4 linked regions of the Homo sapiens genome follow. The protein of the gene in region 4 purifies or fractionates together with the protein of the main gene of each other region. This does not show direct contact. Each region holds a gene or a part of one and is shown on either strand. Other genes may lie near its edges. The genes, in order: NFS1, LYRM4, ZC3H4 and EFCAB13.

Region 1 (3,680 bases), on a different chromosome or scaffold from region 4:
GGGAGACTGAGGCAGGTGGATCACCTGAGGTCAGAAGTTTGAGACCAGCCTAGTCAACATGGCGAAACCCCGTCTCTACTAAAAATACAAAAATTAGCTGGGTGTGGTAGCAGGCTCCTGTAATCCCAGCTACTCAGGAAGATGAGGCAGGAGAATCGCTTGAACCCTGGAGGCAGAAGTTGTAGTAAGCCAAGATTACGGCACTGCACTCCAGCCTGGGTGACACAGCAAGACTCCCCCTTGGGAAAAAAAAAAAGAATTAACAGTATCAACTTTGCAGAACAGGATCAGGGACTGGGGTCCTTGGGGAAGGAGAGGAAGATTTACACTTCATTTTATTTTATTTTTGTTTATTTATTTTTTGAGACGGTCTCATTCTGTCACCCAGGCTGGAGTGCAGTGGTGTGGTCTCGGCCCACTGCAACCTCTGCCTCCCGAGTTCAAGCAATTCTCTTGTCTCAGCCTCCCGAGTAGCTGGGACTACAGCCACCACACCCAGCTAATTTTTTGTATTTTTTAGTAGAGATGGTGTTTCACCATTTTGCCCAGGATGGTCTCGAACTCCTGAGCTCAGACAACCTGCCTGCCTCGGCCTCCCAATGTGCTAAGATCACAGGCTTGACCCACTGCACCCGGCCTACACTTCATTTTAAATCTTTCCATTGGTTTTAAAAAAACACACCATATGTGACAGAATTATTTTTCAAAAATTAAAAACTTGGAAAGAAAATGTGCATCTCTCCCCAGAGCTTATAAAAGACTATTACCTTTAACAGCAGAATAAAAAGCCAGGTGCAGTGGCTCAAGCCAGTAATCCCAGAACTTTGGGAGGCAAAGGCAGGAGGATCACATGAGCCCAGGAGTTCAAGACCAGCCTGGGCAACATAATGAGAGCCGCATCTCTACAAAAATTAAAATAACAGGCCGGGCGCGGTGGTTCACACCTGTAAAACCAGCACTTCGGTTGGCCAAGGCAGGCGGATCACAAGGTCAGGAGATCGAGACCATCTTGGCTAACATGGTGAAACCCCATCTCTACTAAAAATAGAAAAATTAGCCAGGCGTGGTGGTGGGAGCCTGTAGTCCTACCTACTCAGGAGGCTGAGGCAGGAGAATGGCGTGAACCCAGGAGGCAGAGCTTGCAGTGAGCTGAGATCACGCCACTGCACTCCAGCCTGGGCGACAGAGCCAGGCTCCATCTCAAAAAAAAATAAATAAATAAATTAAAATAACAAAATTAGACAGGCGTGCTAGTACACGCCTGTAAGCCTAGCTACTTGGGAGGCTAAGATGAGAGGATTGCTTGAGTCCAGGAGTTCAAGGCTCCAGTGAGCTGTGATTGTGCAACTGCACCCCAGCCTAGGTGACAGAATGAGACCATGTCTTTTTTTTTTTTTTTTTTGAGACAGAGTTTCGCCCTTGTTGCTACAGTGCAATGGCGCAATCTCGGCCCACTGCAACTGCAACCTCTGCCTCCTGGGTTCAACTGATTCTCCTGCCTCAGCCTTCCAAGTAGCTAGGACTACAGGGGTGTGCCACCACACCCAGGTAGTTTTTGCATTTTTAGTAGAGACGGGGTTTTACCATGTTGGTCAGGCTGGTCTCGAACTCCTGATCTCAGATGATCTGCCGGTCTCAGCCTCCCAAAGTGCTGGGATTACAGGTGTAAGCCACTGGGCCCGGCTGAGACCCTGTCTTATAAAAAATAAACACATAAATAAAATAAAAGCAGAATATTAAACCATATAGGACAAAATTATAACTATGTAAAAATGGTCTGTTCATGAGGACAAAGAACATAAATGAGAAACATTTATAATTGATTTATACTCTATTTTATCCTAAAAAGTATTTACATCAGTAAGTAAAAATGGTTGTGGGGCACTTTGGGAGGCCGAGGAGGGCGGATCACGAGGTCAGGAGATCGAGACCATTCTGGCTAACACAGTGAAACCCTGTCTCTACTAAAAATACAAAAAATTAGCCGGGTGTGGTGGAGGGCGCCTGTAGTCCCAGCTACTCAGGAGGCTGAGGCAGGAGAATGGCGTGAACCCAGGAGGCGGAGCTTGCAGTGAGTCAAGATCGTGCCACTGCACTCCAGCCTGGATGACAGAGTGAGACTCAGTCTAAAAAAAAAAAAAGAAAAAATGGTTGTGGGATGGTGATGATAGTTCAAAATGTTACAGTTGTTTATAAAAATTTCATTTAAATGACATTTCACCACCCACCCACCTTATTTTATCTCAGTTACCCATGATGTAGATTTCTTTAACAATTTATAGATTATTTTACTCTACCAATCATGGAGATTAAAAGAAACATCATCACAGGTACTCTTAGCGATCCTTGACCTGTTGGTTTGGAATCTGTGGAGACTTCCAAAGAAAATATTTTCGAAGTTTTGAAAATGCTCTCCATTTCAGAAACCATCTCCACCTTTGGAGGAACCTTCACCCCGACTCTCTGGTCTCTGCAGTCCCAAGGAAGGATGCCTTCCTGTTAACATGATCAGGCAGAGTGCTGATGACCCTGAAGCCCGTCCTAGGCCTCCTATATTCAGGCCAAGGTCAAAGAAACCAACACTGGCAGCACAGTTCAAAGACAAAGATGAGAGCAAGTGGAGCCAGAGTTCAAAGTACAGCAAGCCACAATTTCTCAGAGCCTTGGCATTTACTCACATAATCCTGGCAACCAGGCCCAGTGAAATCTGACTATGTTCTATGAAACACCAACGTGACTACTAAAAGTACCTTTTCCTTGCATTAGCACCAAAGATCTTCTATGTACCCAGGACAAAATGACTGATCCCAGAATGGGTGACCATGTGAATGCCTGCAGAGGGCACCACAAAGACAAGCACTTCAAAATGGAGATATCTAAAGAAACAGGAGGAACTTGTTGCAAATAGATCTGATCAGAAAGAAAAAGGAAGGCTGAGAGGAGGACAGCCCTGAAATCACATATATAACTTGTTGTTACTAGATAAAAAGAATGGAGAAAGGCCGGGTACGGTGGCTCACACCTGTAATCCCAGCACTTTGGGAGGTCGAGATGGGAGGATCATCAGGTCAAGAGATTGAGATCATCCTGGCCAATATGGTGAAACCCCATCTCTACTAAAAATATAAAAATTAGTTGGGCATGGTGGCGGGCACCTGTACTCCCAGCTACTCTGGAGGCTGAGGCAGGAGAATCACTTGAACCTGGGAGGTGGAGTTTGCAGTGAGCTGAGATTGCGCCACTGCACTCCAGCCTGGCGACAGAGTGAGACTATGTATCAAAAAAAAAAAGAAGAATGGAGAAAAGGTTCAATCACCATTATCCACTCTCTGAAGTAACTGCCAGACAAAAAAAAAACAAGTGGTTAATGGCCTGAGGGCCACCTCCTTTGCTATCCAACTGCCTCACTCAACTCAGACCAACAGCAGCAAAGACTTAAGAAAGAGTAGACTGCAAAGGGTTAAAGGAAGCAACAAATCAGAAAGACTGCAAGCCTTCTCTTCACAATGGGGTGGGGATGGATGGCTGCGAAATACATATACGAGTCCAAATGATGGAGGGACACTATCTCCTAGGTCAGGAAAGCCCACATACACCCTCTGGTTCCCTTCTCTTACCTTAATTGCTATGTTGTTGGATTCAGTAGCACCACTAGTAAAAATGATCTCACGAGGATCAGC
Region 2 (3,680 bases), on a different chromosome or scaffold from region 4:
TTTTAAATTATTATAACTAGGATCAAATATATCTTTATTAATCAAAATAGGAACTATTACAATCAACATGTTTTTGCCAACAAGAAATAAGTTTATTCCTGTGGCGTAAAAATCCGTGCTTCGGGATTCTACAAACTCTTGGAAAGCATTTTCTTCATCCTGCTAGTCAAGGAAGCGTTTTCCCTACAAAAAGTTGTCGAGATGCTTCAAGAAGTGGAAGTTGGTTAGCGAGAAGTCAGATGAATATGGCGGATGAGGCCAATTCGTTCAACTTGTGAAGCGTTGGTTTTGTGACATGCAGTCAAGGGTCATTATGGAGACAGTTGGGCCGTTTCTGTTGACCAGTGCTGGCTGCAGGCATTGCCGTTTTCAGTGCATCTCATGGATTTGCTGAGCATACTTCTCAGATGAAACAGTTTTGCCGGGATTCAAGAAGCTCTAGTGGAGCAGACAACCAAACAGTGAGCATGACCTTTTTTTGATGCAAGTTTGGCTTTGGGAAGTGCTTTGGAGCTTCTTGGTCCAGCCACTGAGCTGGTCATCACCAGTTGTCACATAAAATCCACTTTTCATCACACATCACAATCTGATCGAGAAATGGTTCATTGTTGCATGGAATAAGAGAAGACAACACTTCAAAACGATGGTTTTTTTTTTTTTTTGCTCAGCATGAGGCACCCACTTATTGAGGTTTTTCACATTTGCATTTTGCTTCAGATCGAACGACCATCGAATGGTCAACATTGAGTTCTTTGGCAACTTCTCGAGTATTGTAAGAGGATCAGTTTCCATGATTGCTCTCAATTGGTCGGTGACAACTTCCAATGGCCGGCGACTAGGCTCCTCATCTTCAAGGCTCTCGTCTCCTTTGCAAAACTTCTTGAACCACCACAGCACTGTACCTTTGTTAGCAGTTCCTAGGCCAAATGAGTTGTCGCAAGTTGTCGCTGCAGCTTTTTGACCAATTTTGAGCTCAAATAAGAAAATTGCTGAAATTTACTTTTTGTCTAACATTATTTCCATAGTGTAAAATAAACATAAACAGCAAGTCATTAGCAAAAAAAAAAACTGAGAATTGCCCATTAAAATGATGTATAACATAACCACATTTATTTAAGAATTTATTCCAGTATCAAACAGCAAATTCCAGCAATGCAAAAACTGCATTCCTTTTGCACCAACATAATAAATATTCATTGTTGAAATGCAAGAGAAAATTATATTCAATGTATCCCTCTTATAGCTTAAGAAATATGTTATTGTAAAACTTGAGAAAAGGCTAAAGTGATGCCCAAATGCATACCAAGTGTAGTGTCAGAACTCCCTAATTCTTCATCAGATATTTGAGTTTTTATTAATGTGTTATACACTAAGCATTGTGCAAAGAGCTTCAGATCAAAATGAGCCTCCTATTAAGGGTAAAACATTACAAGCTCCTAAAGAAGTTTATCAATGAAGTACAAAGGAAAGGCCATAGAAAGGAGCTGGTCTCCTAAGTGCCACCTTAAAATTAGGAATGCTTTTGACCAGAAGTCATAGGAAGCCCTTACACAGGGCTTAATTGGGGGCTTATTCTTCTCACATAGGAAAGGTCTAGAGGTATGTAGCTGCCAGAGCTTATTTAGCAGCTAGAAAATGTCAAGGTATGTGTGAGTCTCGGTGTTCCTCTCATGCTTATGCCTGATGGTTGCAAACAGCTTTTGAAGCTCCAAATACATCCTTATTTAGTCAGGAAGAAGAAGGGCAGTCACAGCCAGGAAAGGGTAAAGCTTTCCAGGAGGACTCTGCTTTTGCTCATTGACCAAAACTTCATTACGTTTATATCACTAGGTAAACAACAGGCTGGAAAATTAGGATACAGCTATTCTAGCATCTCTAGTGAAAAGACAGCAGAGAGAAAACGGTGGGAAGAACTATTGATTAGGCAACAGTCTGTGTCAGCCACAGAGGTGGACATGCGATGGAAGAGCATTCCAGGCAAAGACAGTAAGGCATGTGAAAAGTAAAATGCAAGGCGTGTGTCAGAACCAGACGTGGGTAATTGTGGCTGAAGTGTTGGACTGAGCTAAATGTCATGATGTTAAATGCTAGGTAAAATCCCCAGTAAGTAACGAAATAGGTTTCAAGGCAGAGTGAGGCATAGAGAGGAGAAGCAACTTGATTGGTCTCACAGTTGGTCAAGGGCAGAATGGGATTAGAAGGCCGCCTCGCTCCCCGTGGGCTGCCGCTTCCACAACCCCATTCTTTTCAGAAGAAAATTCCTGCACCCATGCATCCTGTGAATAAGCCTGCAAAATCTGTAGAAACATCAACCTGGAGAAGTTTATTTTCACAGTTCCTCCTTATAGGTGAAATGGTTAAACAGGCTCCCTAGTTTCATGAGTGGTAAAATTCCTAAGTCCTGATCAACCTAAGTGCTGATCAACGTCAGGTCTCGCTTACTATGTACTACACAACTGAATGAAACACTGATATCTGTGATTGCTGTCTTAATGAAGGAACCAAATAATGATTCGTGTTTAGGAATCTGTTTTCTTTTTGAGCCATTGGAACTCTTTAATATATTACCAGTCGCAATCCAGATTTATTGGCAAGCTGAGGAATTAGAACCATGAGCTCCTGGAGTGGGAACCAGGCAGCCCTCTCACTCATCAAAGGATTTCTTTCACATGTTTTCCTTGTTGCGGATCTTTTAACAGTGACTGCCTCTTCCACCCTATGTGTCACTGATTGATCAAGAAGGCTAGCATGCAATGATACAGTTTGGATGTTGTCTCCACCCAGATCTCATGCTGAAATGCAATCCCCCGTGTTGGAGGTGGGGCCTGGTGGGAAGTAATTGGATCATGGGGGCAGGTTTCTCATGAATAGTTTAGCACCATTCCCCTTGGTACTGTCCTCACAATAATGAGTGAGTTCTCATGAGATCCGGTTGTTTTAAAGTATGTGGCATCTCCTTCCTCGCTTGCTTGCTCCTGCTCTGGCCTGTGATGTGTCTGCTCCCCCTTCACCTTCTGCCATGATTGTAAGCTTCCTGAGGCCTCCCCAAAAGCTGAGCAGATGCCAGCATCACAATTCCTGTACAGCCTGCAGAACTGTGAGCCAATTAAACCTCTTTTCTTCATAAATTAGCCAGTCAATGTGAGAACAGACTAATTCAAATACCACCCTAATATGAATAGTATTAACAAGCACCTTTCACTTTGTAAAACAGGGCAGCTACAGTGAAAGCCTTCATGCCAAATATTCTTCTGGAGACAAATCAACAAATCCATTTCTTCCTAATATTTCTTGAAAACTCACAGTGTGTGTGTGTGTATGTATATATTACCACACTAGAACCTAGTAATAGGTGGAATCAAACACAAGATGGCCCTGCTGTCACAAGATTGTAGTATGGTTGCGCATATGCAATGTACATATAAGGACGGCTCAAGAAACTTACAGAGGAAGCATGCAAATTGAAATAGTGCCCGAACAGTGGAGATTTGCAGAATGTACTGGGGCTGAGGAGACACCTTGCATAATGATGTTTTGGCTGTCATATATCGTATTACAGAAATATTTTTTAAATAACATTGTATTCTATTTTAAGCAGCCAAATAAGAGTTTTGCTCTCTATGAAATGTTGAACACATCATACATGTCTGTAAAAATTGCTTTCACTCTTTTATTATACC
Region 3 (2,545 bases), on a different chromosome or scaffold from region 4:
AAACTGTATTGATCATGCATTCAGCCATCTATCCACCCATCCTTCATATTTGTTGATGCATTTCAAAGTAAGTTCCAACATCACAACAGACCCCTCCTCAGAGGATACCCCTGGCTATCACATGGGTAGGGTGCCTGCTAAAGCTCGTCCCGTCCCTGGAAGCCAGCCCAGCTGTCCTGTCTGTGTTAATGGTCTTTCTATGAGCACTGCAGGGGCAGATCCAGGACTGTGCAGGTCACCCCTGGATCCCAAATGCTGAGCGTGGCCCGCACAGAAGCTCAGGGACCTTGGGATGTTGCTAGTAGGTGATCTACTGCCATCCACTGAGGACAGCTGACACTGTTTGGAGGCACAAATTGTCCCTCAGTGTCCTCATGTTACCCTGAGGCCGACCGCTGAGAGAATAGGTCCTTGTTTCACCCCCCAGCCACCTTCCACCCTCGTTAATTCCCAGGGCAAGGGATGGTCTGGGGCAGCCTGGAGAGACCAGACCCACAAGCTTTTTAAAATAACTGCATCCTTTAATGGCAGTAATACAATTACTGGATTAAGAGACCACAGGAGAAAGGCAGGTGACGTTTCTGGAAGACAGATATGGAGTATAAAAAGGGTGTGAAATAGTCATGCGGCGATCATTGTAAAAATACAGTTCATTATATACATATTTGCACCACCAACTCTCAACTCTGAAACAGTATTTACACTTTTGTTACAATCCTGGTTAGAGAACAATTTTTCTTTAAAAGCTCGGCCTGATGGCAAATGAGAATTTCGGGTGAATTCATAGTCCTATGAGGTTCTTAGGCTGAATATTCCAAGAGGAGGGCTCCAGCTTCTATTTCATCCACAGATTTCGGTTTAAAAAATATTTTTCTTTTACAAAAGAAAATTCTCAAAAGGAGAGGAAAAACAACAACAAAAACCACAACACTGCCACACTGTGTATTCATACTTATTTTACAAACACCAAGGGCTGTGCCCTCTGCTTCAAGGCCAACACTGGTGGCTGAAGACAAATCTCATTAATGATTGTGTAAAAAAAAAAAAAAAAAAAAAGACAAAAAGACAAACCAACCAACCAGATCCCAGCACTGACCCCTCAGGGCTGTGCAGCCCTGTAGGACACCCTGCCTCCTGGCTCCAAACTATGAGTTTTTCATTTTTCTCTTTTTGGGGTGGGGTGGGATAGGAGCCTTGTTCACCCCACCCTGAGGAGGAGGGAAGGGGAATCCCTTGGCAGGTAACTAGGTCTCTTCATGGTCAGCAATGAAGAGCTTGGCCTGCAGCCACATGGTGGGCCAGGGAGACGGGCAGATGCAGCCACAAGCACACACTTCCTGAGGCCCCTCAAGTGGCCCAGAGGCAGGATAGCAGGCCTCCCCCAGCACCCCTTGCGCCCATCTCTCGGGCTGTGTCCATAGGTGGGCCTCCTCCAGGGCTCTGCAGATGAGGCTGGCCCTCAGCCAGGGTGGGAGCATGGGGGGAGCAGAGGCTCCCCATCCCCTGGCTGCAGGGTTCCCACTCAGTCCGTTTCTTAAGTGTCCACAAATCCCACAGAGCAACACACCTTGGAACACCTGCATCTGCTGGCTTGGGAAAGGAAACCCGAACACATCAATACCTCATGCCCTGCAGGTCACACAGTGTAAGGAGGTGCGAGGAAAACAGAGAACACTTGGCCAGGAGCCACCCCAGGGTCCCCATTGTTGGGGCCTGGCGGCGCAGCCACTGCACGGATCCTGGAGCTGTCCGGGGCTGGGCTGCAGTGCAGGCATAGCGGGTGCGTGGCTTGAGGACCAGGACAGACCCTGGTGTGGGCAAGCAGGGTGTGGCCCACCTGATAGGACAGGTGGGGTAATACTGACAGAACGTGCGTGCTCCTAGGGGCTGCCTCCTAGAGGTGGCTCTTCAGGACTCTGCCCCACACCGGCCCCCACTACCTTTGGGTCCAGTTCTCACTGTGGAGGCTTCTGCTGCAGGCTGGGGGGCATCCGCTTGCTCTAGACGGAGGGTGGCAGGGAGGGCACGTGTGGTAATCCAGGGACAGGAGCAGGCATGCGCCAGGGAGCCCCCATAGTGCCGCTGGGGGCTTTTTCCTTAATACCTTTTCACTCTCACTGTCTCCTGAGTGGGTTGTTACAGCCTGCACTGAAAAGACAGTGATGGTGCACCCTAGGGTTCTAGAAACGCCTGGACCTGCTTCCACGCAGGCCCTGCCATGGTCTTGGTTCCGGGTCTCTTCGGGCACAGGGTGAGGAGCGTTCAATACCTTCCCAGACACCAACTGTTCCCTTTGTCCTGGGGAAAAGGGGCCATGCTTTGCCCAGAAAACCCACTGGGCCTCCAGCAAGGCCCGGCCACGCAGAGCCCACAGAGTCTGAGGCCAGGCACTGGCGAAAGTTCACAGGTTTGCGGGCATGAGTCGGTTTGCTCAGCAGGAGCCCCTGAGCCCGCCACACTGACCAGAACTTAAGATGGTTATATACAATTTACAAATCTCAAAGAAAGTACTACTTTAAAAAAAAATAAAAGAGACGGAAAGCAA
Region 4 (4,454 bases):
ATGTCCAACATTCCTGGAATTCAAAATATGTTAAAATAAAATAGAACCACATTGAAAATACTCATCTCAGAAAATACTGGAAATCTATGCAGGTCTCCCCAGTAACCCATCCTACGTAATCTCTTCTAGATCTTCTCCAACCAGTTCAATATTTACCTCTAAACTACTGTGCATAGCACTTACTGCCTTCACTATTCTTGTCTTCACTATTTAACTGACATTAATCATTTGCCTTGTATTTGTATTTTTCATATGTATAGCTCCTATACCAACTATAGCCTAAATTTATAAAGAACTGGGACTGGTAACTTATCATTCTTAAAATTATTTCTCACAGTATCAAATACAATGGTATATATATAATGAAGGAAAGAGTAGAGGAAAGGAGGAATGGTATGGAGGGAGGGGAAAAGAGAGGGAGAGAGGGATGAATGAACAAATTCCCTTCCTACTAAGCTACTCACCAAGATTTCTTAAATCATCAAAGTGCTTAATTAAGCAGAGTTGACACGTTTTGAATAAATCTTGAAAGGAACAATTGTTCTGTAATTTATTGACGAGATTATCAAAAAGTTGGCAGGTCTTAATTTGCTGGATGAATCAGGTACCGCATAAGCCTCTCCAAACTTAAAAGAAAAAATTAACTTAGAAAGTCTATTCCCTGTAACTCTGACAATATAATTTTTCTCAACTATTTCAATCCTGTCTTCTATCGGTGAACTTGCAGGAACAAATCAAGAGAAATGGAGGGAGTCGTATCCCTTTTCTCCAGTCATCTATCCATTCACCTTTCTATCCATGAATTCAACGTATATGTCTGCATGCTTAGTGTGCACTAGGTTCTCTCCTAGGCTCTAGGGATATACCAATGAACAAAATATATATATGCTATATATATATATATATATATATATATATATATATATATTTTGTTTATATATATATAAAATCTGCCCTCATGAAGCTTATGTTCTAGTCAGGGAGTGAAATAATAAAATAGAAAAATAAAACATATTGTATGTTATCTGCAATAAGTACAAAAAAAAAAGTAAAGCAGGGAGGGGAATATGAAATGTAGTATAGGGGAAGAGATGCAGGGAACAGAATGGGTGGCCAAGGAAGACCTTACTGAGAGGGAGACTTTTGAGTACAGACCTGCAAGAACTGAAGTAGGGAGCTGATTAATATCTTAGGGAAGAGCATTTCAGCCAGAAAGAAAAGTAAGTACAAAAGCCCCGAGGCAAGAAGAATGTTCAAGGAATAGTGGGAAGGCCCCAGGAGGCTGAAGCAGGAGAGATCAGAGAGGCTAAGTGAAAGTGGCATATCATGGAGGACCCCTAGATGACAGTAAGAACTGTGGCTTGTACTCTGAAGGAGTGACAAGCATTGAAAGAGTTCTGAGGAGAAGGATTACATAATCTGAAGTTCTTTCTGAAAGGATCACTCTGGTTACTGTGAGGAGGGAAATCAGGTAGGTCTGGGTTCCTGAATGCCAAGTGAAGAAAGTACTTCAAGAGTGAGCAATCAGGCTGTGCATGGTGGCTTATGCAGGTAATCCCAACACTTTGATGCGGGGGTGGGGGTCTAAGCAGGAGGGCTGCTTAAGGCCAGGAGTTCAAGACCAGCCTGGGCAACAGTGAAACTCCCACCTCTACAGAATTTTTTTTTTAATCAGCTGGACATGGCGACCTTAGTCCCAGCTACTCCAAAGACTGAGCCAGGAGGATCTTTTGAGCCCAGGAGTTTGAAGCTGCAGTGGGCTATGATTGCACCACTGCACTCCAGCCTGGACGACAGAGACCTTGTCTCAAAAAAAAAAAAGGGGGGTGGGGTGGGCGGTTAAGATCAGTACTGAATGGTTCGCTAGGTTTCACAACACGGAGGACACTGACAAACTTGAAAGGAGCCATCTGGGTGGGGTGGTAAGGAGACAATGTCGTCAGAGTGAGTACAAGAGAGAACGGGGTAAAGAAATTGAACCCAGCCAGTAGGGTAGGCTCTTTCAAGGAGTTACGTTGTTAAGAGAAATAAGGCAGTAGCTGAGAGGAAAATGGGGCTGTGAGGCTTTAAGATGAGAAAAACAAAGGCGTCTTCACTGAAGCATGACTCTGTATGACATCCTTTCACAAAATACCTTCCTCTTTCCTCTCATGCCACATTTCCCTCACAAGCCGCCCGACTCGCTCGCTTTTCTCTCGCCAGAGGGACTGAAAACGTCATTAATACCAACTGCATACACAACTCCATTGCAGCTACTGCCATTCATGAACGTTCAAACTTTCGTCACCCTGTTTTCATATTTGTGTAACAAACGTCGAGTGAACGAACCTCCACCTCTTCCAAGAACCCACGCTGAGGAGGCTTCCCATAGACCCTGCTCTTACGAAGCCAACGACTTCTACAGGAAGAAAGAGGACCTGTAAGCTAGCGAGTGAACGACCCGCAAGATGGAAATGAGTGTGCTAATAGAGGTCTCCGCCTCCCGCTGAAGGAGCAGGGAAGTGACACCACCCCCGGGACCGCCAGCCTTCTACAACAACCACCATTTCTGAGGAACCACCTGATCAGTCTCAGTCACCCTTCAATCTGCCCCTTTGTCCCACTCAGTCCCCTCACTGTTCCTTTCTGGAACCTTCCTTCACCCAGCCCCACCACTGTTCTCCTTCCTCCCTCGCACCCTACTGCATTCTCCACCCTCCACCTCGAAGGCTCCCCTCCCAACTCCTCAGCGGGTCTCGCCTCCCCTCCCCACCTCTGTCCCCCAAGGGTCCCACTACCGGCCCGAGCTGCCCTCCCTTCCTCTCGGCTGGAGGCCCCCGCGCTCTCTGTGGTCAGCCCCTGCCGCCCCTCGGGCGGCGCTGCTCTAGCTCTGCAGCCTTCCCAGGATCCCGCGCCGCGCGGCCCCGCCCCCGCGGTCACCTGACCGAGCCCGACGCTCCGCCCACCGACCACCCCGAGCGGAGCGGGCCCAGGACCCTATCGGCTGTCGAGCCGGTGCTGCCGCGGCCACCGCCACCGCCCAGGGGCTCCGGGGCTGTGGGGAGCGGCTGAACTCAATACCGCCTCCGCGCTGACTGGAAGGCACTGCGGCCGCGCCTGCCTGCCCCACCTCGTAAGGGCCTGTGACCTCACGAGGCCAGCCGCCGGGCGCTGCATTCGAGCGGTGGGGCTCCTGTCCGTGCGCTTTCCTCCCGCAGCCCCGGCCGGGATTCCGCCCTCCGTCCTTGCCACCCGCTCGCCACTCTTCCCTAATCGCTGTTCATTCTCCGGTGCGCTGTCCCGCCATGGTCTGACCCCACTTCAATCTTACCTTCGGTCCGTCCTTTGAACACCCCGACCCCCGACCCCTTTCTTCCAAAACATTCCATCCTTCTTGGCTTCTGCTACTCAATAATGGACAGCAGCTCGAAGGCCATGTGTCCCACGGCTTTGCTGAAATTTGTCTCGGGTTGCCTTTAAGGAGACTGTCGTTTCCTTTTGAAAGAGATACTTTGGTTGGTTTGGTTTTCTTCTGTGTGTTTGTTTTTCCTATGTATTTATCGTATGCAGTTGGGCAAAATACTTAACGCTCCCTGAGTCTCGATTTTCTCATTCTTCCAGGGTTGTGGGAATTCAAAAATATATACGTAGTGCTCAATAAATGTTACAATATTTAATCCCTTCCGTGATACTACTGTGTTCATTTACATCTTAAACCTTGCTTTGTAGGCATTCTTTAATATTTTATTTAGATTTTTATTATTATTAAATATATGTACAAATCATAATTGTAAATATTTAATGGGGTACAATGTTATATTTTAATATATGTATACAATATGGAACGACTAAGTCAAGCTTAACATATCCATCACCTTGTTTAACGTTTTTTATGGTGAGACATTTGAAATTTACTCTTAGCAGTTTTGAGATATACGATATATTATTATTAGCTATAGTCACCACACTATGCAATAGATCTCAGAAACTTGCTGCTTTTGTCTGACTGAACCTTGTACCCTTTGAACAGCATCTCCCCATCCTGCATCTCCTACCCGCCCCGTCCCTTTCCAGCCTCTAACAACTATTCTACTGTCTACTTCTATGAGTTTGACTTTTTAAGATTCCACATATAAGTGAGATCATGTGGTATGTGTCTTTCTGTGCCTGGCTTTTTTCACTTAGTATGTCCTCCAAGTTGATTCATGTTGTCACAAATGACAGAAATTCTTTTTTAAGGCTGAATAGTATCCATTGCATATGTTGATTCATGTTGTCACAAATGACAGAAATTCTTTTTTAAGGCTGAATAGTATCCATTGCATATGTTTACTACATTTTCTTTATCCATTCATCCATCGATGGACACAGGTTGATTCCATTATCTCAGCGATTGTGCATAATGCTGAAATGAACATGGAAGTGCAAATAAGTCTTTGATATACTGATTTCAGTTACTCAATATATGCCCAGAA

What was found.
Region 1: the proteins of EFCAB13 (region 4) and NFS1 purify together in Homo sapiens (affinity purification with mass spectrometry; one large-scale study listed by BioGRID and IntAct). This does not show direct contact.
Region 2: the proteins of EFCAB13 (region 4) and LYRM4 purify together in Homo sapiens (affinity purification with mass spectrometry; one large-scale study listed by BioGRID and IntAct). This does not show direct contact.
Region 3: the proteins of EFCAB13 (region 4) and ZC3H4 purify together in Homo sapiens (affinity purification with mass spectrometry; one large-scale study listed by BioGRID and IntAct). This does not show direct contact.

The regions. Positions count from the first base shown.
Region 1 is NC_000020.11:35,692,760-35,696,439, forward strand, and holds part of NFS1 (cysteine desulfurase isoform a precursor), read right to left. Parts: coding exon 3,618-3,680; intron 1-3,617.
Region 2 is NC_000006.12:5,250,816-5,254,495, reverse strand, and holds part of LYRM4 (LYR motif-containing protein 4), read left to right. Parts: intron 1-3,680.
Region 3 is NC_000019.10:47,063,687-47,066,231, forward strand, and holds the end of ZC3H4 (zinc finger CCCH domain-containing protein 4), read right to left. Parts: 3' UTR 501-2,545; downstream 1-500. UniProt on the Homo sapiens protein: RNA-binding protein that suppresses transcription of long non-coding RNAs (lncRNAs). LncRNAs are defined as transcripts more than 200 nucleotides that are not translated into protein.
Region 4 is NC_000017.11:47,322,398-47,326,851, reverse strand, and holds the start of EFCAB13 (EF-hand calcium-binding domain-containing protein 13), read right to left. Parts: upstream 2,898-4,454; 5' UTR 2,778-2,897; exon of another isoform or gene 2,753-2,777; intron 2,399-2,752; 5' UTR 2,329-2,398; intron 627-2,328; 5' UTR 465-626; intron 1-464.